2 separate regions of the Homo sapiens genome follow, and region 2 is linked to region 1. Evidence: fine-mapped expression QTL. Tissue or cell type: aorta. Region 1 holds a variant in brackets; the other region holds the start of a gene. All regions are shown on one strand. Distances are between the middles of the regions.

Region 1 (10,304 bases):
ATTTAACGTTTACTGTCTGCTGATTGTGCACTCATCGCTGTAGCAAACAAAGAGCTCAATCTAGTTTTGGTTCATGGGCTAATTTAGTCAAGAGAAAGGAGATGTAAGTGCAACTGGCATAGTAGAAATTGCATGGACTGGAAATCCACTGGTTCTAGCTAGGTACAAATTCACCAGTGAACTTAAGTCACTAACCTTCTGAGACCTTCTGCTTTCTCATCTGAACATGGAAAGGGGAAGCCTCTTTAATAGTGGGATTTCAGGCACAGGCTGGAGAGAGTGCTAGGAGCAAGGAGCTCAGATTTCCACAAGCATCCCTCTGCTCGCTCCGCCTTCAACTGTGCCAGGCTGTGTCAACCAGATGTAGCCTACCTTGGAGCTTTCTTCTGGTGCCATTCCAGGGACTCTCAGCACGTGGAGTGCCTGCCTAGCCAGCAGCACATGGAACTACTGAATTAGACACTGCTATTTCTAGTGCAGCTTTCAGCCCTGGGTTCCCTGGACCTCTGGTTTTAGGCTTTGATGCACTGAGAGAAAAATGAGCCAGACCATTTACCATAATGTCTTCACCTTGCCTTGGCCCAGCTGGCTGTCTGCCAGAGAAGCTACTGCCAAGGCCTTGGGTGCTAAGGCTGGGAGGGGGTCAGTGGGGCAGCAGATCACCCCAGCCTGGGATGAAGAGAAGGTGCTGAGAGGAGACCTACCACTCAAATTGATCACCCAATCAGCCCCTCCCCAGAACGACAATGGGTTCTCAGGGCCTTTGGGGCCTGTGCTCTAAGTGCTGACAAACCTTCGTGATTATCTCAAGGCCTGTTCAACTCTTCCAGCTGCAAGGGAAGCCCAAGCATGTGTTTGCTTGGCCTAATAACTTACTATGTTCTCACCACTTTGTCTTTTACTTGGAATGAGTAGGAGGCCATGCAAAGACTGTAAATGGAGGGCTTAGTGATGTGAGATGACTTTTGCTTGGCAGGATTCCTCTGGCTCCTGGCTGAGAATAGAATGGACAAGGGTGGAAGAAGAGAGTCAAGTTAAGGAGTCCTTGCAGTAAGCCAGGCAAGACAGCATGACGCCTTGTCCCATGTGGCTGATGTAGAGGGACTGCAAAGGGTTGAATGTTGGATGACTTTGGAAGGATTTTCTGATGAACTGAATGAGGAGTGGGAGAGAAAGCAAGCTGTCAAGGATGGCTCATGGTTTGTTTGTTGTTTTTTTTCTTTTTTTTCAGAGCAGCTGAAGGATGAATTAGATCCTGTTCCTATCAATAATGATGATGATGATGATAAATCAATATCTAACTTAAAAATTCGTAGCTAACATTTTTTAGCCCTTATTAAGTGCTAAACACTCTTCTCCTAAGGATTTTTGATTGTGAACCTCAAGGAGGGAGAGTCTATTGGGCATTGATGATATAAGAATAGTTCAGTGGAATTGGGTGATGAGTAAGTGATTTGGTAGTATCATCTCCTCTTCTTTTCAAGTTGATTCTTTTTCATTCCGTGTCATCAGATATGATGGGTGCTGCAGTGGGACATGGAGAGAGCTGATTGGATAAGTTGCTGTAACTCAGCTTGCCTATCAGCTCTCCTCGTGTGTGTGTGTTTGTGTGTGTGTGTGAATGCACTCGAGGTCTTTGGAGACTGTAGGAATACTGCCTCAAGGTCATAGCTGTCTCAGGAGGGAGGGGTCAAGGTTCTAAGCCTCTAGCACCACTAAGACTACTTGTCTACTGATGGACATTATAAAGGCTATTTGTCTCCTGTTTGTCTCCCTTGAATGCAGACCTAATAATCCTCCAAGAAATCCACCACCCTTCTCTTGTATTCATGCATAAGATTCACTGATAGGCCTTGTCTTTCTAGGACATTTGCAGGCACATACACCTTTAGTCAAGGGGACTTTGGAACAATTGTACAATCCCCTTGCAATGACACTTTCATCATCTTATGCCATGACCCTTTTTTACTAATAAAAAGGTATGATACATTGAACAAAAATACTATTCAAATGATAATCACTTTAAAAGTATTTACAGAAGGAAAACCAGCATAGAGATAAGAGTTAGAAACTTCAAGTTGGGAGATTGAATTTTACAATTTACTAGAAAGTCCTCACTCCTCACTGGCTATATGAGAACGTTGGGATGGGGCAGTAGCTTTGCCAGTATTTTTAAGCCAAGGAAACTTTATGCCAACATTTCCTTGCTTGGGAGTGCAGTATATACCTTACAAAAAATGGAGCTGCTCTTGTGGAAGCAAGAGGAACACGCTCAGGGCAACCCTCTTGGCAAGCTCCTTTCCCATGCAAGATGACCCTGAGCTACCTCAGCTGAGTTGGTGCTCTCTTGGGCCTTTCTGGCTCCGAGGTTTGGCCATGAGTACTTCCAGCTCAACTTCTAAAGAATCCACACTCTCAACTCCCACTCCTTTCATGGATTTCTTTCCTTCATCTTCTTCTAGTTCCATAGCCACAAAAGAATGAAAGCACTTTTATCCTTAGTTTCATTCCACTATCAGAGTAGAATGAATTACCTGATCACATGTGATGTACTAAAAACGGCCTCAGACAGATGTGGGTGCAAACCCTGCTTCCACTACTCTGTTACTTTAGGTGAATCTTGGTCACAGTTGACTCATCTATAAATGAAAGTGATGATCCCTATCTCATAGACTTGATGTGAGGAAAGGTATCCTGGCAAAAAATGGATGCCTTCTGAGCTCCTGATTATGTGGGCTCTTTTCCTCCCTGGAGCACCAAGGCCAGGCGTACGGCTCACCCAGTGCCTCGGGTCTTGTCTTGCAGAGATGTCTGGCACAGCAGCGGACATCTCGCTGGTGCACTGGAGACAGCAGTGGCTGGAGAATGGCACCTTGTACTTCCACGTCTCCATGAGCAGCTCCGGGCAGCTGGCCCAAGCCACCGCCCCCACTCTCCAGGAGCCCTCGGAGATTGTTGAGGAGCAGATGCACATCCTCCACATTTCTGTGATGGTGAGTGATGGGGGGATGTGACCGGGGTCGGGGATTGCGTGGGGGAGGAATGGGTGGAGAGATGGAGGGGGCGGGGGATTGTCCACAGATGGAAGGAAAGAACCAAACTCAAGAGGTTAGAATGAGAAACAGAAAATCAGATGGATTCTGTGATGTCACTTGGACTGATGCATACCCATCCATCATCTGTCAGCTGTGACAAACTAATTGTGCTTCAGAGAAGAAAATAAAGGGTCTCCAACTCCTCGGCCTTTTGGCTGACATCTCTGGGAATAGCTGTTTAACATCTGTCATGTGCTTGGCCTGCTTTGCTGAGGGCTGAGGTTTGGTGATTCAGAATACAACTGGCCATTCCAAGAATGACTGAACAAACAAAATTGGAATAAAACCAGAACAGGCTGCCTTTTCCTAAGTACCCTTGATGTGTCAGGTGTTTTAACCCTTGCAACAACTGCATGGTGGCCCTTGTAGCTGGGCTGGACGTAGCCATTGTGGGGGTCCACAGAAGCCCCTCCATAATTCTCTTTATAGTTGTGAATACTGTGGCTGAGGGGCAAAGAAACTTACCTAAGATCACATAGCCAGCGAATGATGGAACTACTCTTGAGTGTTCAAATCCAAGCATATCTGGCTACTAAGCCTGAACTATGTCCTGTACACCCTGTTTTCTCTCAATTCAAGAATTTCTTGAGTATCTACCATTTGTTAAGCACTATACTGGATACATGTATGGAAATTATCTCATTGTGCTCTTGCCAAGAATGGATGAGGTCCAGCGAATCACCTCCACATGTTTGCAGAGAGAGGATGTGGCTGTTCAGCTCTGTTGGCCCCATGATACAGAACTCTGAGTCTGCTGCCTCCACCCAGAAGGTTACTAGGGCTGGAATCACTTGAGTGGTAGTCTAAAAGTATCTGGGCTTATATTATATGCTTTCTTTAAAAAGCTATATTTATTGGCATTGCATGGTAGATAGAAAAACAAAACCAGAAAATAAATCCAGTAGGTAGAAAGCACAGAGTCTAATGGGCTCAGGAAGAAACTTCACATCTTTCTGATGCTTTATATTCCTCAAAGCCCCTCTTACATTCACTTCTCCTTTTCTTCTTTAGTACGGCTCTGCCAGATACCCAAGGTTAGGAAATGGTATCTCCAACATACATATGAGGAGGCTATGGCCCAGAGGGGTGAAGTGATTGGCATAAAGCCACTCAGCAGAGCAGAGCTACCTCTCAACCCTCATTGCTTCCTTCAATTTAACAATCAGCAGTATTTTTTGAGACTCCACAACGGAGCGACCTTTAGTTTTAGTCTCTTTCTCGTTTCTCTTCAACGAACACTGTGCATTAGACATTCTGATTAGGGCTGAGTAAGATCTTAGAAGTTTTCTCTTTTTGGAAAAACACATACACTCCCCAGCCAGACAGCAATGTTAATTTTGGACCTTACGCAT[G/T]CTCATCACGTGGAGGAACAAATCAAGGCCTTTGTGTTATTCATGGAATGAGTGTGATAGACTTTTTCCATATGTATATTTAGCAAATGATGCAGCCTCACACCAAGCAAGTGGGTGCCTGCATGCTAAGTTTGGGGTGCAAATTTATAAGCACCATCTCAGGGCACTTGCTGAGTTCCTCATGGGGTGTGGGACACCATCTAATGTTAGGAAGAGGCGGAGGGGTGTGAATGCTCTTCTTCCTTTAACATTTGAGAGTGAGACTCAATTTTGACCAATGTTCATTAAACATTTTCTGTGTTTCAGCACATTTACTTGCATGTATCCTTCTTGTAACCCAGTAACCTGGATAGTATTATCTCAATTATAAATGAGCCTCCAATGTGTCTTTTTTGCTTCCAGGTCCAGTGTTAGTTTCACTGAATCAGACTTTCTCCCCAGGATGGTAGGTTTTCCTCAACTTTCCCTTTTGCTCAGTGAGTTCAGCTTCGAAATAATAACTCACTAAGACCCAGATGTCACTGAAATTCCCTGTAGTTCCAGATTTGGCTGGCAGAGTAGGTAACGTGGAAGCTGGCACCCTTCAGACCCTCCCCACCCATGAGCCAAAGTGACCCAAGGCTACCACCGTGTGGTCCAAAGTTCCTTCCCCCATTCAGGGCTCCATAATCTGGATCTCTCCTGTCCCTGCCCTCCCCTCAGGGAACAGAGTCATGTCTTGGAGACACTGAACCCCAGGGTGTTCTTCCTCTGAGAGGTGGGGCATGCCAATAACACTGCTCTCTCTAGAGGTAGGAAGACAGCCATAAGCACAGACTTGGAGCACAGACTTGAGGTCTCTCTCTGACACTGAACTCGGGTATGAGCCCTTTGTCTTGTTTTTGTCATTTATAGAACAAGGATTATACTAATAGTTATGTAGACACAACAAGTCCTCAGATCAGAGGAGCTTGGCACTTAAGGGTATTTGCTTTTGTTAATAGGGGCAGTTTAGTTGAAAAACTTGAGATGTGCTGATTTATTATACCCTTTTATTCCATAGTTGGATACTGAGGTCTGGGACAGGCTAGGACTTGTCTAAGATCCCTCAGTCAGTCAGCAGGGCTTGGCCTGGAGGTCAGGCCTCTCTGTGGCTCAGACTCTACCCTTGTCATTCTGGCCACAGACAATGCAGCAAGAACAAAAAGAGTGTTTACATTTAAGATGGCTGGGATCTGTCTCCCCATTTCACAACTGAGAAATCTGAGATTCATGAGTTTAATTGATTTGTCTAAGTCTCCTGGGCTAACAAAAAGGCAGTTCTGGGGCCAGGATTTCCCCAGGATTAAAACTTGTGTCTGGCAATTCATGACATCATGGCCCTGACCCTGCTGGATACACTATTGTTTTCATCTTTGGTGAAGATCCAAGGTGGTTTGTGAGAAGACCCAAATCTTCTAGTCAAATCTCAAAGAAGTCTGGAGGCTAGGGTCTATGCACTCCATCCCCTTTTGACAGCACAGATATCCTGCTCACCCATGCAGGGAAACCAGCTCCCATTCAGCCACTGGAACCTGCTACCATCCATGCCTCCTGGGGTGGAGCCATCATGCTTTGTAGGCTTGTGAAGGCTAGAGTCGAGCATCTACCTTGTCCCAAAGGTTGCATCATCTGAATATTAATATCACAAAAGGTGATGCAGCAAGGAAGTACTCTGAACCTAGTCCAGAAAGTGAGAGTAAACAGTCATCTCCTCTTGTCCTCTGCCTCAGCTTCAGCATACCCTCCTCAGCTGTGCAGGTGGCAGGATGCAGAGAAAAAAAGCAGAGCGATGGAATTCAGCAGACCTGGCTCTGAATATAGTCTCTTCTACTTCCTGCTTCCTGGTAATTTTACGTTAGGCACATCCCTTCATGCCTCTGAGCCTCAGTTTCCTTATGTATGAAACAAAACTGATCATACCAATCTCACAGAATTATTGAAAAGAGTGGAGAAAAATTATTGAAAAGAGTGGAGAAAAGAGTGGAAAAAACATACAATGGTGCCTAATACCCAGGCTGGCACATACTGAGTGCATAGTCACAAATGGCTATTAATATTGTCATTGAAGCAATGTTTAAAGGACTTCAACTTAGGAGTAAAAAGACATTGGCTTTAGTCTTATATTTGCTGCTATTTTGCTGCCTGATCTAGAGAAATAATCATAATACCTGACATTTATTTTGAGTATTTACTGTATGCCAGGCAGTGTTCCAAATTTTGTTCTCTGCATATTATCACTTTCAATCCTCACAACAAACCTTAAGATGGATACTGTCCCTCACATGAGGAATCTGAAATGTTAATAAATACCTATCTACGTGACATTGATCACACAAAGGTTAAGTGGCAAACCCAATTTTTCACTCTATATAAGCTGGTTTCAGAAACTATGCCCTTAATCTATATAACAGGCCACCATTTTCCTTCTCTATGCATCCGTTGTTGATTTAAATTGATAAGATTTCATGAGTGAATTCTTACGAAGACTGTACCCTATGTGGAATCCATGGGTATTTTATGAGGGTTTATGACTTGGAAATCAACTCCATGGTTGAATAATGTCTCTATCACTACCTTTGTGTCCTTGGCCAAGTTACCTTCATCATTTGTAAAACTGGAATAATATTCCCCAATACTTAGAGATTTTTTTTCTAGGCACGGAATGAGATCACACTCACAAATGCCCTGCACAATGAAAATAATGACTGCCACCACTGAGAACTTTCTGTATGCCAGGCACTAAGTGCAGCACCTCTATTATTTCATCTAATTGTTCCAATGCCTCTATATGATAAGTAATGTTGTTGCCCTTCATTTACAGATGAGGGCTTAGGAGTTAGTGGGATTTTTGCATCTTGCCCATCCACATCACCAATAAGTGCTGAAGTTGAGATTCTAACTCTGGTCTGTCCAAACTGAGAGTCTGTGTGCTTGGGCACAGTTCTGCATGGCACAGTGCCTGACATTCTGTAAGTGCTCAAAAAGCAGTAGCCGTTATTAAAATGTTAGCTATAGTGAGGGTTATCATGTCTGTTATTTTATAGAGTATTCACTCCAGGTGCACAAAACATTTGATAGAAATTGGAAACTTGTCAGTTAGGGAGAGGAGTTGCTCATGCCAGCATTTTATAGATAGGAGAAAAGAAATCCAAAGCAGGCTGAGTGATTTGACTACAGGTGCAAAGTCAGAGGAAAACCATGGCTTGAATCCTGGGGTGCACTTTACATTGTTTATCAGAACAAGCTATTATGGGCCCCTAACTATTTGCCAGCTAAGTTTGTGATCTACATATGCAAACTTGCAGGATAAAGAAAGAGGTTCTTTTAGTGTTGGTATCCTTATTTAGAAAGTGGGAAGCCAGGATTGTCTTGATCTCCGGACCTCGTGATCTGCCTGCTTGCAGGCAGGAGGCGGAGCTTGCAGTGAGCCAGGATCACGCCACTGGACTCCAGCCTGGGCAACAGAGTGAGACTCTGCTCAAAAAAAAAAAAAAAAGAAAGTGGGAAGAGTTTATCTGCTTCACGCAGGCATGAGGAAATGCAATAGGTCCTAGCAGATGTGATCACAACTTCTTGTTTCTTTTTTGCATTTATTTGTTTTTTTCATTTTGCTTTTTGTTGCCATTGCCATTGTCACATTGGCATTTCAATATATATTTCACTTTTGCATAGATCAAAGTTGCTTTCAACAAAAATAGTTATCACTTGTGGTTCAGAGGGTTGGTCATATAATTCTACTCTTTCCTCCTCTCCCCCTTTTTAACAGTGAGAAATATAATTTCATTTTAATGTGATGTGTCTTGTTTTAAAGATTTCCACAAGAGTTACTAGATAGAAACTGTTTGAGACCAATATGTTTTATCTTGGCGCTTTTGTTTTTTCCCTTTTGTCTTTGTGGTGACAAAATGTTTTGAGAAAGGGGATGAAAAGAAATGTTTGGTTTGATGTAGGAGAAGAAAAGAATTTTGAGGGCATGTTTCTCTCAGAAGGATCATCCCAAAGAAAATGCCACGGATTTGTATTGCTGGCCTCCAATGAGGGAGGATTCAGGATTCCAAGAGGTCAAAATTCTCATGCACGACAGGACAAACACTTCAAAGTGTCTGAGCTATCCATCGGTGGAGTAGGCCGAATCAAGAAGTTGTGGGTTTCTTCTCCCTGAGTTTGTGCAGGCAAAGTCACTGGGGTTTAGAGAGGAATAATAGTTAAATTAGATGACTATTGTAGTTGCCTCCAATTTAGATGATCTATGACTCTGTGATATAATAACATAGAATAATACTTTGAGGAATATAAAATGTCACACAAATCTAAGAAATTATTACTACCATTCTTATTCAGTAGCTTTGTTTAGAGGATCGGTGTGATATTGGGATAACACTTTTTAAAGGTTTCTGTAAAAGATGGCTTTATATCATTGCTCCAACCGTGACGTTTTTTCATTCATAGCATATTCCTTCATTCATTGATTTAATCATTCAATCATGGAATGGTTTACCTGCCTATTAAATCTAGCAATGAAAAGCCTATCTGCTAGAAAAAAAAGAGATAGAAAAAAAAAAAAAAAAGCTTTTTACAAAATCAGCCACCAGCTCAGATTGAGCCAACTATGGGGTCTCATTGCTGAAAGTGGTCTTATATTTTAAGTTGAATTAATAAAAGGCTAGGTTTCTGAACAAATAATTCTAGAGGTACTGGGCGAGAACTGAAATATTGTGTTTATTTTTGGGGCCATATCTTAAGAGAAACAGTAACTGAGTAGAAATAATAACTGAGTAATCAAGACATTGAAGAATCTTAATAATGCTAACAAGCACTTTTACAGTGCTTAGTGTGATTGTACTTGACATGTATTTAACTCATTAAATTCTTACAGTAATCTCAATAGATATTATTACTCCTGCTCTACTGTTGAGAAAATAAGCACAGGAAGTATAACTAACTTGTAAGACCTGTGACTCTGTGTGTTCTGAGGTTCACATTCTGGCTCCATAACTGACTTGGTAGTAGTGGGATTTGAGCATGTACTTTCTCTGATGGAATTACCTGTCTAAAGAGGGGCTGTTGTGAGAATCATCAGAGATGATAGATATAAAGCACATATGCTGGAGCCTGACACACAGCCCTGGTTCTATAAATGTCATTACTCTGCTACTTATAAGTGCATTAGCTTCCTAGTTTGCAATAACAAAGTACCACAAACTGAGTGGCTTAAAAGACAGACATTTATTATCTCACAATCCTGGAGGCCGGAAGTTTAAAATCAAGATATCTGTGAGACCATGCACCTTCTGAAGGCACCAGGGAAAGATCTGCTCCAGGCTTTCCTTCTAGGTTCTGGTAGTGCCTTGGCTTATGGCAGCAGAACTCCATCTTCACATGGCATTCTGCCCATGTGATGTCTGTCTCTATGCCCCAATTCTCCCCCTTTTATGAGGACACCAGAGGCCAGGTGCGGTGGCTGAAGCCTGTAATCCTACCGCTTTGAAAGGCCGAGATGGGTGTATCACCTGAGCTCAGGAGTTTGAGACCAGCCTGGGTAACATGGTGAAACCCTGTCTATAGCAAAAATACAAAAAATTAGTTGGCCTTGGTGGTGTGAGCCTGTGGTCCTAGCTACTCATGAGGCTGAGGTGGGAGGATCGCTTGGGTCTGGGAGACGGAGGTTGCAGTGAGCTGAGATCATGCCGCTGCACTCTGACTGGGTCCCACCCTAACAACCTCATTTAAAAATTGATTGCCTTTATAAATACCCTGTCTTCAAATAACACCACATTCTGAAGTACTGAGGGTTAGGAGCTTAACATATTGCTTTTGGAGGACCCAATTCAACTGA
Region 2 (10,304 bases), 130 kb before region 1:
GGGAAGGAAGAATTGACAGACGGAGGATGGGGGAAGGTTTTTGTTGTAAAATTTAAATTATATTCTCTGTGAAAGTGCAGCTAATGCGAAAACAGTGCCTGTCTCAGTAAAAATTCAATAAATATGTGATGGTTCATTGGCAAAATACTTATTTTGCATCTCTACCCTATGTAGGTTACTGTACTAGCTGGTGTGCACACTGCGGTAAGCAAGACATAGTTGGTCTTTGATATCTGGCAGCTCCCAATCTAGTAAGGAACATACGCACCAAGAAAATGCTCTAATAAATGGACAATTATTGAAATATGGAATGAGTACAATTAAAATGGTTATAAAGAAATATGAAAGGATGTAACAGAAAGTACAGCAAGAGGCTAACTTAGGCTGGGTGGGTGGTCACGTTAGGGAAAGTGCTTTGATTAGCAAAACTTATAGACTAGCAAAAGATAGCTAGTGAAGACGGAGGGAGGTCTCTCCAGGCAGAAGAAAGAGTCCGTTTGAAGATGCTGGGGCAACAAGAGCTTGAAGTATTTCGGGAACAGAAAAGAGATCAATATGGTTGGAATCAAGTGGTGGTGGTGGGGATTATGGGACATGAGGCTGGAGTGGAAAACAGTGGGTGAGATCCGTAAGATGATTGGATTTACTTACAACATTCAAGAGAGCCTCATATGTGCTAGACAGTTTCATACACATCATCTCATTTAATTCACACAGTGATCCTGAGAAGTGGGTACTACTTTCCCCATTTCACAAATGAGAAAAGAAAAGACCTAGTAGGAACTATAAAGTGACTTGACTCCATAGAGAAATAGCAAAGATGATTTCTAAACGAAAATCAACCAGCCTCTTGGGCCTCTGGCTTTTTCAACTACATTAGGATGCCTCAGTCAGGTGGCATAAATACAAGGGATTTTTAAAACAGAGTAGAGTATGGAGAAGGGGGAAGCAGGAAAGAAAAAATATTTCAAAACTACCTAGAAAGGCAAATATGAAAGATGAAAGAAGAGGAAGTATTTGCTAGAAAGACTGGAAAGGAGTTAGAATGAAAAAAATTTTGTATCAGTGGAGTCAAAGATGGGAGTACAGGGGACTGTAAAAGAGAAAGAATTGAATCAATAATGAAATATAACTGAACAAAGAGGGGAAAGGAGAAGGAGTGTGAGGGGCTGAGAGGGAGAAAAGTGGTGGTCATAGGACAGGGGACTCGAGTATGAGTAGGGAAGTTATAGTATACTGGGAATAAGTTGCATGCAAAGGGCTGAGGCCAGGAGGGGCATTCTGTGACAGACAGAGCAAAGATTTGGGAGCCAGGCATTCTTGTATTTCACCACTTGATAACTCCATGACCAAAATCAAGTTTCTCAGCTTCCCTGAGCCTCCGATTTCATACCTATAAAATAGGGATAAAAAGCCTTGCTCCAAATGTTGCTGAGATTATACATCAAAGCAGTAGTTATAATTTATTGAGCAGCTATTATGTGTTAAATGCTTTGTATAATTATTTCTAAAGCCTCACAACCACCATAAGGCAACAGTTGTTATCATCATTCATTGATATGCTACAAAAAGTTTTGGATCACAGAGCATGTGTTCAGAAGTATAAGTCATTTCCTGTGGACATTCCAGATTTGACACTGTCTGTGATATAAAGTTGGTACTCCTTGTCTGCCTTTTCTGTCTTGTCTTCAGTTACTCCCTCTCCCCCTCACTGAGCTTCATTTCCCATCATACACCTTGCTGTCTCTGCCCTCCCTTTGTTTCCACATTCTGTGTTCTCAGCCAGGTGTTTCAGTTGCAAGCAACAGAAAGCAATCCTGAATAATTTAAGCAGAAAGAGAATTCAGAATTCAGTTAAGTGATTATTAGATTCCTTAGAATCTCCAGAAAGGCATGGGATCTGGGTTTAAAGTGCATGAAGTCAAGAGCACCACTCCAAATCATAGCACAGAACTGTATGGGTGAAGATATGTTTCAGCTGCAGCCAAGCATAAATAAAAGGCACTTCACACTGTTGACATTGATATCACTGGGCTCCAAACAGTGCTATTAGAACCTTTTCGACTAGCAGAGACACCTGGATGTAACTGCCCCAACTATTGCCCTTTTAGCCGCCACTGGATTCTGCCTGATTCCGGCTTATTTTTCAGCATCTGGGGTGGGTGAATCTAACTGGTGAAGCCTGGGTCATGTGCCCAAGCTCTAGCTGCAGTGGAGGCTGAGAAAGTATCCAGAAATGTTAGCTTCTTCATGGGAGGTGGGCTGTGCCTTAAAAGATAAAACATTCTCTGATGTAGGAAAGGGATTTATTCATTTACTAAGCAGTTGCAAAGAATGCCAAATGCCAACTTTAACCTAGAATGCCCACTCCCTTGTTACTAATCTTTATGGTTCAATTCCAAAGCCACCGCCTCTGGGAAGCTTTCTTTGATTTCTCCAAGTACCTCATCTTAGGAAACACATGTCTGCCTGCCTGCCCATTACCTGAGATATTTATGTGCCTGTCTCTTTCCGGCATCCCACCCCCTCACCCCAATCATTATAAGCTTTCCAAAGGCAGGAGTTGTGTTTATCCATCCCTGCATCTCCATATAGCACCTGGTAGGCACCCTGAATATTTGGTGATGAATGAATGAATGAATGAAAGTGTTGGTCTCATTTGACAGGCCTTTGTACTAGAGGTCCATGAAGGACTTGCACAGACTCTGCCTTACATAAGGGAGCCCTTTTTTCCTGGTGTGCTCTTCTGTAAATGGACTATGTCAGCATATTTGAAGAAAGGGGCATAGAGAATCAGAAAGCCCCATTGCGGTGGATAGTGGCGGATTGTAAGGACACAAAGGAGAGACTGAGGGAGGCAGGGTGACATATTTTGGAGGAGTAAATGAACTAGAGCAGGCATCAGAGAGGCAGGAGACCATTTAGAATTAGAGGACTTGAAAGGCCAGATTCCACCCCAACCTCCACACATCCTTTGGGTTCACAGATTAGTAAACTGAGACAGGAGAAGTATACCTTACAAACCTCACAGGGAAGTAGATCCAACTGTGCTTATGCAGATTTACCTTTTACAGCATCTTTGATGGGTGGGGTTTTCCAAGGTCACTGAGGACAGTGTAATTTAAGGGAAACAGTCAAGGCTTGAAGCCTACTGTTCAAACCTCAGCTCTTCAGCTCATTTGCTATACGACCTTGGAAAATCCCTTCACCTCCCTGACCACCTGATCTCAGTTTCCTCACATGGAAAATGGGAATCATAATATCCATCTTTTTGGATTATGGTCATGTAAAAAAGCTAACATACGTACATGTCTAGCATTTGGAGAATGCTTTAAACACATTAAGTCCAAGGTCGCAAAACAGCTTTTGCTTTTTTCCTTATTTTCAGTGCTCTGCCTTTATCCAACGTTATTAAAAAATATATGATGAGAGAGGAGAAAAGCAATTTATATGAAGGGTTAAAGATAGAAAAGGGGAATGAGACAGAAGAGGGAAGAGCTAAGAGAAAAGTGAATGCATAGAGACAGCACAAAAGGTGCAGATGGGTAAGCTAGACAGAGATGAGAAGTTGCTCACAAATTATAGGAAAGAAGCATTTGTAAGATTAAAGTCAAGATGAGAAGGAAGGAAATGAATGGAGAGATGAAACAGAAAACAGAGACAGGGAAGATGAAGAAAAGTAGGGGAGTGGGGAAGGGGCTGCACGGCACTTGACCCATGCAGAGGTGTCCGCTCCCTGGAGGGTCTCAGGTATGTGGGTCAGAGACAGAGTCAGCCCAAGACCAAAGGGTGCTGAATCTGAGGACCTAGCTCAACTTGAGTCTAGAAAGACTGCAGGTGAAGAATTGGTGAGCACTCCCGTTCTCTGGGACTTGGGCAGAGGATCTAAAAGACCCGGGAGCCAAGGACAGACAGAATAGTAGGTCTCTACCTCACACCCTTTTCAGGAATTTCACACAGAGAGCAGAAGCAGCCAAGTAGAGCTGCTCCAAGCTGGGAGCAGGGATCCAAAATAAAAAAGCGTGAGTGGGCTGGCTTGCAGGGCGGCAGCTAGGGGGCCAGAACAGCCCGGCTTCAGTCAGTTGTGGGGTCGGCGTTAGACGGTGGAGTTCGACGCCCCTCTGTCCATTAGCAATTAGTGCTAGCACAAGGCCTGGATGGAGGGGAGAGGAAGGTTTGCGGGCAGTGGGAGAATGAATGCAGGAGTTGTGGCCAAGTGGGTGGGAAGGGGGCTCTGAGGCTACAGGAAGTTATTTCAGAGACTAGAAAAGGGTAGGAGATTGGAGAAAGGACTTGTTCTTGGGCCTGAGGGGAGACAAAGTTAAGTCTTGGCTATCCAGGGGGCTCCCTATCCCCAAGAAGGCGGGGCCTTGAGCAAGGCTGGGCCAAGGCGCGCCCCCAGGTGCAGCCTCTGGGTTGAGCCGAAGGTGGGGTGAAGCCAGGAGAACTGGGTTGAGTCAGGGGGGCTTGGGGGGGCCCGAGGGGGCCCTAAGTATTAGGAATTTGGGGAGTTTAGGGAGGGGTGTTGTGGCTAAAGAATGCTGTGAGGGCGGAATTGGGGGATCTTGGGAAAGGGGAGGGAGCCACTGGGACTTGCACGAGGCCGGGCGGAGCCTCCGAAACGCTCGGGGTCTGCGGGGGGAGCCGGAGATCGGGGACGGGCGGCTGGGCCCCGGGAGGCGGCGCGGGGGGGCGGTCCAGGGCCGATCGGGAGGCGGAGCCCGGAGCTGGGGGCTGCTGGCGAGCGGCTCTCTCCGCTCCTTAGCTCGGGCGTCCTGGTTCGCTTCGGCGTCCGCCGTCTCCGCAGCTGCCTCCTCTTCCTCCTTCGCCACCGCCGCCACCGCCGCCGCCGCCCGCAGCACCGCAGCCCCTCCCGCCATGGCCGCCGCCGGCGCCCGGCTCAGCCCCGGCCCCGGCTCGGGGCTCCGGGGGCGGCCGAGGCTCTGCTTCCACCCGGGGCCGCCGCCACTGCTGCCGCTGCTGCTGCTGTTCCTGCTCCTGCTGCCGCCGCCGCCGCTGCTGGCCGGCGCCACCGCCGCTGCCTCGCGGGAGCCCGACAGCCCGTGCCGGCTGAAGACCGTCACGGTGTCCACACTGCCCGCCCTGCGGGAGAGCGACATCGGCTGGAGCGGCGCCCGCGCCGGGGCCGGGGCTGGGACCGGGGCCGGAGCCGCCGCCGCCGCCGCGTCCCCGGGCTCTCCTGGCTCTGCCGGCACCGCCGCCGAGTCGCGCCTCCTGCTCTTTGTGCGTAACGAGCTGCCGGGGCGCATCGCGGTGCAGGACGACCTGGACAACACCGAGCTGCCCTTCTTCACCCTGGGTAAGGCTGGGCGCCGGCACGCGCTAGATCCCAAGGAACCCCGAGCCCCTGCGTCATGCCGGACGGGTGGGGGCGCCCTGGGGATCCCTGCCCGGGGCTGCCCCGAGTGGGGTTGGCAGAGGGTAGAGGAGGGGCCCAGAGGTCGCACAGGTGGTTGGAAACGAGCATGTGGGAGGAGGTCCTGGAGAGCGCGCGGCGGGAGCCTGGGGGCGTGCCAACCCTCCCGCAGTGGGAACCTGCCCCTCTGCCTCTCAGTCCCGACCTGGAGCTCTGCTTGATCCATCCCGGAAGCCGGAGACCCCATTCACTGAAGGTGCTCTGGCTAGGGGCCGGAGCATCCCAGATCCTAAGCCAGTTTCAGGTCGAGCCTCCCACTTCTCCGGGTACCGTCACTGGCCACCCGCCGTCACCGCCCCCTCGCTCTCGCCTCGGAGTTGCGGGTTCTGCCCTTCCAGATGGATTTTCATGAGAGTAGGAATGGAGTAGTTCCGTGTGGAATCGCTCAACCCGCAAAAGCGTGGCTTCCGCATGGGCTGAGTGACCTTGGCCAAGTCGCTTCCCTTCTCTGAGCCTCAGTTCTGGCCATCTGTGAAATAGGGCTGGAGAGACTTGAGTGGTTGCTGAGAACTGGGATTCCGACTCCGAGGTCTCCACGTTTAGAGCCTCCCTCTACCCCCGTTACCGCCTTCCCTTTCTACCCACCTCCAGGCAGAGAGCCGGTTTGTCCTTGCAGCTCACTCCCTGGGCTAATAATAATTACTTAAAGGCAAGAAAAAGGAGAGGAGAGGAGATGGGTGTGGGTGGGGGGCTCCAACGGAAAAGTTAATCAGAAAAGTTCGCCAGCAGCTTGCTGCCTGCTGGTTCCCTGCGCGAATCCCGGAGGAGTCGGCCCTTCAGTGGAGCTGTGGGAAGCGCAGCTGATTTCCCACCCGGGTAATTGATAGCTTAATTATCTCGGAGAGCGTTTACAAAAATGTTGTTCCCCTTAGCTCTCCCGCGCTCGCTGCTTGCTCGCTCTCCCCTCCCCTCTTGGGGGCGCGGGGCCTTATTGGTTGTCGGAGTCTGGCCAACAACAGCGCCCGTGAGGCGCCAGGGGCTCGCCCAGACCCGGAGCTCTTCTTCCCCGGGTCTTTTCCTCGGCGGGATCCGCCTCGGGCACCGCAGGTGAGGGGCCTTCCAGGTGAGAACCTTTACGATCCCTGAACTTCCGAGGTTAACTCCTTGCTCGCCTGAAAAGACCCACAGAATAATCAGCGGACTACGCTCCACTCTCCTGGTAGCCCTGATATTGTTAAAAGTATTTTTGTGACCCACTCCCCATCCTTTCATGCTACCACCTCTGGGGATTTGAGCGAGTGCCAGTGGTTCTCCCGCTCTGAGCTTGAACCTCGGGGGTCGAGCCCCTGTACCCACCCTCGCAGGCTGTAACCTGAGCGTGCCGAGCGTTCCGGGAGGAGAGGCAGCGGAGCGTCCTGCAGGTTCCTCGGGGACTCCCCGCGGCGGCGCTTCTGGGGTGCGACGCACCAAGCACACACACACAGACACACACAAACCAGTAGCTCTTCCCACGTGCACCTGTGGGGCTGCCCATGTCCGAGAAAGGGAAGGAGGGTGGAGGTGGTGTTCCTTAGAGCGCCGCCGGACTAACCTCAGGCTCACAGCTGGCTCTTGCCACCTCCCCGTGGGGAAGGGTCTTTCTAGAGACACAGAAGGTATCCCTTCACTACCACTTCCATTCCTGACCTTCTCCCTTCATCCTTTAGATCTCTCTACTCCGGGGTACTCTGAGAGATGAGGGGTGGAAATCCTCCCGCCCCCCAAACGGCCATTCAAGTGAAGGGATGAGACGGTCCTTGGGTATGGCCTGACTTGGCAGTGAGGACCACAGAGCATTTCAAGTCTTCGAGGATATGGAGGACCTGCTCCAACCATCTGTATAGGTGCCCCGGGATTCCTGGAACTGACAATCTTTGCCATTTTTAACTTTGGCTTTCAAACAGGATGGGTGCCTGTGAGCCTGGGACAAGCTGAGTGAGGACCTGAGCGAGGAATTAGAAGTCTTGATTCCCCCAGGACCCATGTGTTGCTTGAGAGTCTCCTGGCAACAACCTGCACATGGAGACTTCCCCCTCCTCTGATGCACGGTCCCTGAGCCTGGCAGCTTGGGACCCTCTGCCCCTTGGAGAGCACGGGGCTGGCCTCCTTGGCAGCGCTGAGCCTTTTGGATGCATGCGGGGGATTGGGTTCTTGCCTCCTCCTTTTCCCCCTAGCGCCCTGGGCTGGCAGCTTTAGGCGCTCTCAACGGGGATTTGGCTAGCGAGGTAGTCACCAGATGGCTGGGTATAGCAGGAGCTGTGTAGGGAGACGTGGGATTTTTATTTGTGTTGGTCTTCCACTGTTTGTGTGTAAACACAGAGTGCACAATGAGTTCTGGGAGGACCTAGCTGGCCGGAAATGAGAGTTGGTGCCCGCTGGGGGTTGGGGGGGGGAGGGGTGAGGTGGGGGTGGTGGTAGGGGTGGGGTTGGGGCTGATACTATGAGACATTTATGGCCATCTCTTTCTAGTGTCCCAAGGCAGCCCCATCCCATCCCCAGACTTTTAAACATCCTGCCTAACGTTTGTCTCTGGCGAGTTGGGCAGCTTTCACTATCAGCTTATCAGTTCAGGGGATACGGACATGGCCAGTGCCACAGCTGAGCATGCAAAGTTGGTAAATGCCAAACTCTGCCAATAGTGGGGAGTGTGGAGCTACCACTAGGGGGTGATGGTGTCCACCAAAGCCCTCTGGTCACTTTGGGTCCTGGGACCAGAATTAGTGGTGGTAAACCATCCCTGGTATTAAAGGGGGACAAACAAAAAGAAGAATTCTTAGTTTATTCAAACTCCAGTGGGGGACCTCAAGGTAATTTTGCATGCACTATCTCCCATCTGCGTGCACCAAGGTCACCTTCATATTTAACCCTGGCTCCCTCCATTCTGCCTCTTTTGTTTCTGTTATTGGTAATGCCCAGACTGGAAGCAAGTCTTTTTTTTTTTTTTTTTTTTTTTTGCAGATCCTTTCCTTTTTGTATTTCTAGTCTCCCTATCAAATTTCAGCCTGCCTTAAGTAAATGGAAGTTTCCTTCAGTTGTGAACTATCTCCAAAGTTTGTTTGCCTGGGATTCTTCTTTAGAATCTGATTATAAGTCAATGACATTGACAAAGTGAATCTCCCTGAAAGTGATCAAAGAATAGCAAATAGTTATTGAATCCTTAATGTGATGCTAAGAGCTTTCTTCCTGCCTTGTATTATTAATTTACATAACATATATGGAGTGGGCTCTACTGTTACTCCCATTTGCCAGATGAGGAAGTATTTTTAGAGAGGTCAAACGCGTAATCCAAAGTCATGCCAGGAATCAATGGCAGACCTGGAACTGGAATCCTGGTCTGCCAGACACCTACATTCTTGTAGGTTGCTAAACTGGTATTCTGAACCAAATATGAAGTTTATGCAGGTTATGGTGCTGAATAGAGAGGGATAACAATCATCAAGATTGTTAGACAAGAGCTTTTCTCCAAAGGAACTTCAGCTACCTTGGTGAGCTGACCTATGTAAGTTTGAAACTGAAATATGAGTTAAATGACATCCAATGACCCTTCCAGCTCAAAGTTTCATGACTCTTGGATGTCAAAGGGCATTTTATTTATTGGTGCCAATGAGTGATGGAGATGATACATTCTGTAGCATCAGGGAAGGAAGGCATCTCTGTAGAATTGGAGAAGACTGGGGGCACTTTCTGGACCAGAAAGAACCTGAACTAGGCCTTGGAGGATTTAATAGGCAAAATGAGGAAAAGTGGAATGCTAAAATGCAGCTTAGAAATTTAACGCTGGTTAGGATCTGGAAATCTCAGCTTTGGCTCACTGTGACCTTGAATAAGTCATTTATCCCCCAGAGCTTCAATTCTTTCTGCTGCAATATGAGTGGGTAGATGAGCTCTAAAATAATCCTTTCGTGTAAAGATTCTATGAACTTGAAGTGCCCTGACCTACTCCATGACTCTGATAGCTCCTCTTGCTTTGTACTGTCTGTTTTCCTTTACTGGTAACATGAGGGTGGTGGGAAGGACTGATAGAAAAGAAAGAATTTGAGCAGGAACAACTGCCAGCCCAGGGCTTCTAAGGTGAACCTGTATGTCATTCAGTCCTCACTTACCTCCAGGCAGCCCCCGGGGTCTGCTTGTGGATTTAGCTTTCATGCCCACAGGTAGGGAAATGTCATCCTTCTTGCTGTGCTTGATAGTGGTCAGGCAAGACTGTTTACTACCTGCTTTGATTCAGCAAAAGCAGGAAAAAGCAATAAAATTGAATAAGCACTCATTGTCAACATTTTTTAGTAATTTGCTTTGCCATATCAACCTGACAGGAGAGGCGTGTGATCTGTATTTGGGGGAGGGAGTGTGAAGAAAGAAAAGCTATTCATTAGTCTGTGTTAAGTACACCTGCATGCGTAGAGCTGGCGGGGTCCCAAAGGACCATCCCAAAGGCTGCTTTATGCAAGAAGCTGATGGCCTGGAAGAAGGAGGAAGATACGGTTTGAAATGCCAACTTGTTCAGGTCAGCAAATGTTCCTTGAAGGAGTGAGGTGCCAGGAACCTGGCCAGAAGAATGGTTGGGAGAAGGGAGTTTAGCCACAGAGGGCTGGAGAAGCTTCCTTTAAATGTCAACAATGAGCTGAGTGTGGTGGCTACTTGGGAGGCTGAAGCAGGAGGATCACTTATGCCCAGGAGTTTGAGGCTTCAGTGAGCTGTGCCCATACCACAGCACTCCAGCCTGTGTGGCAGGGGGAGACCCTGTCCCTAAAGAAAAGTCTACACAAATTAAGAGTATGTTTTCTGTTGGAGAAGGGGAGGGTGTCTGATTCTAACGAATGTCTTGAAAGATCTGAGAGGATAGAGCTGAGCCCTACAGGAGGCTGTGTCCCCTGGAGCTGTCCAACAA

What was found. PIP is the estimated chance that this variant, and not a neighbour inherited with it, causes the effect.
Region 2: it holds the start of ASTN2, and the variant in region 1 is fine-mapped to the expression of ASTN2 in aorta (GTEx, PIP above 0.99).

The regions. Positions count from the first base shown.
Region 1 is chr9:117,284,015-117,294,318 of GRCh38, reverse strand. ASTN2 (astrotactin 2) reads left to right here. Exons shown (of 23, transcript NM_001365068.1): 2 at 2,806-2,993. Among named protein-coding and RNA genes, the nearest start is that of SNORA70C, 110 kb to the right of the region's middle. The variant G/T (reference allele first, on the strand shown) is at 4,448.
Region 2 is chr9:117,409,513-117,419,816 of GRCh38, reverse strand. It overlaps ASTN2 (astrotactin 2), which reads left to right and starts at 4,760. Exons shown (of 23, transcript NM_001365068.1): 1 at 4,760-5,320. The coding sequence starts at 4,879.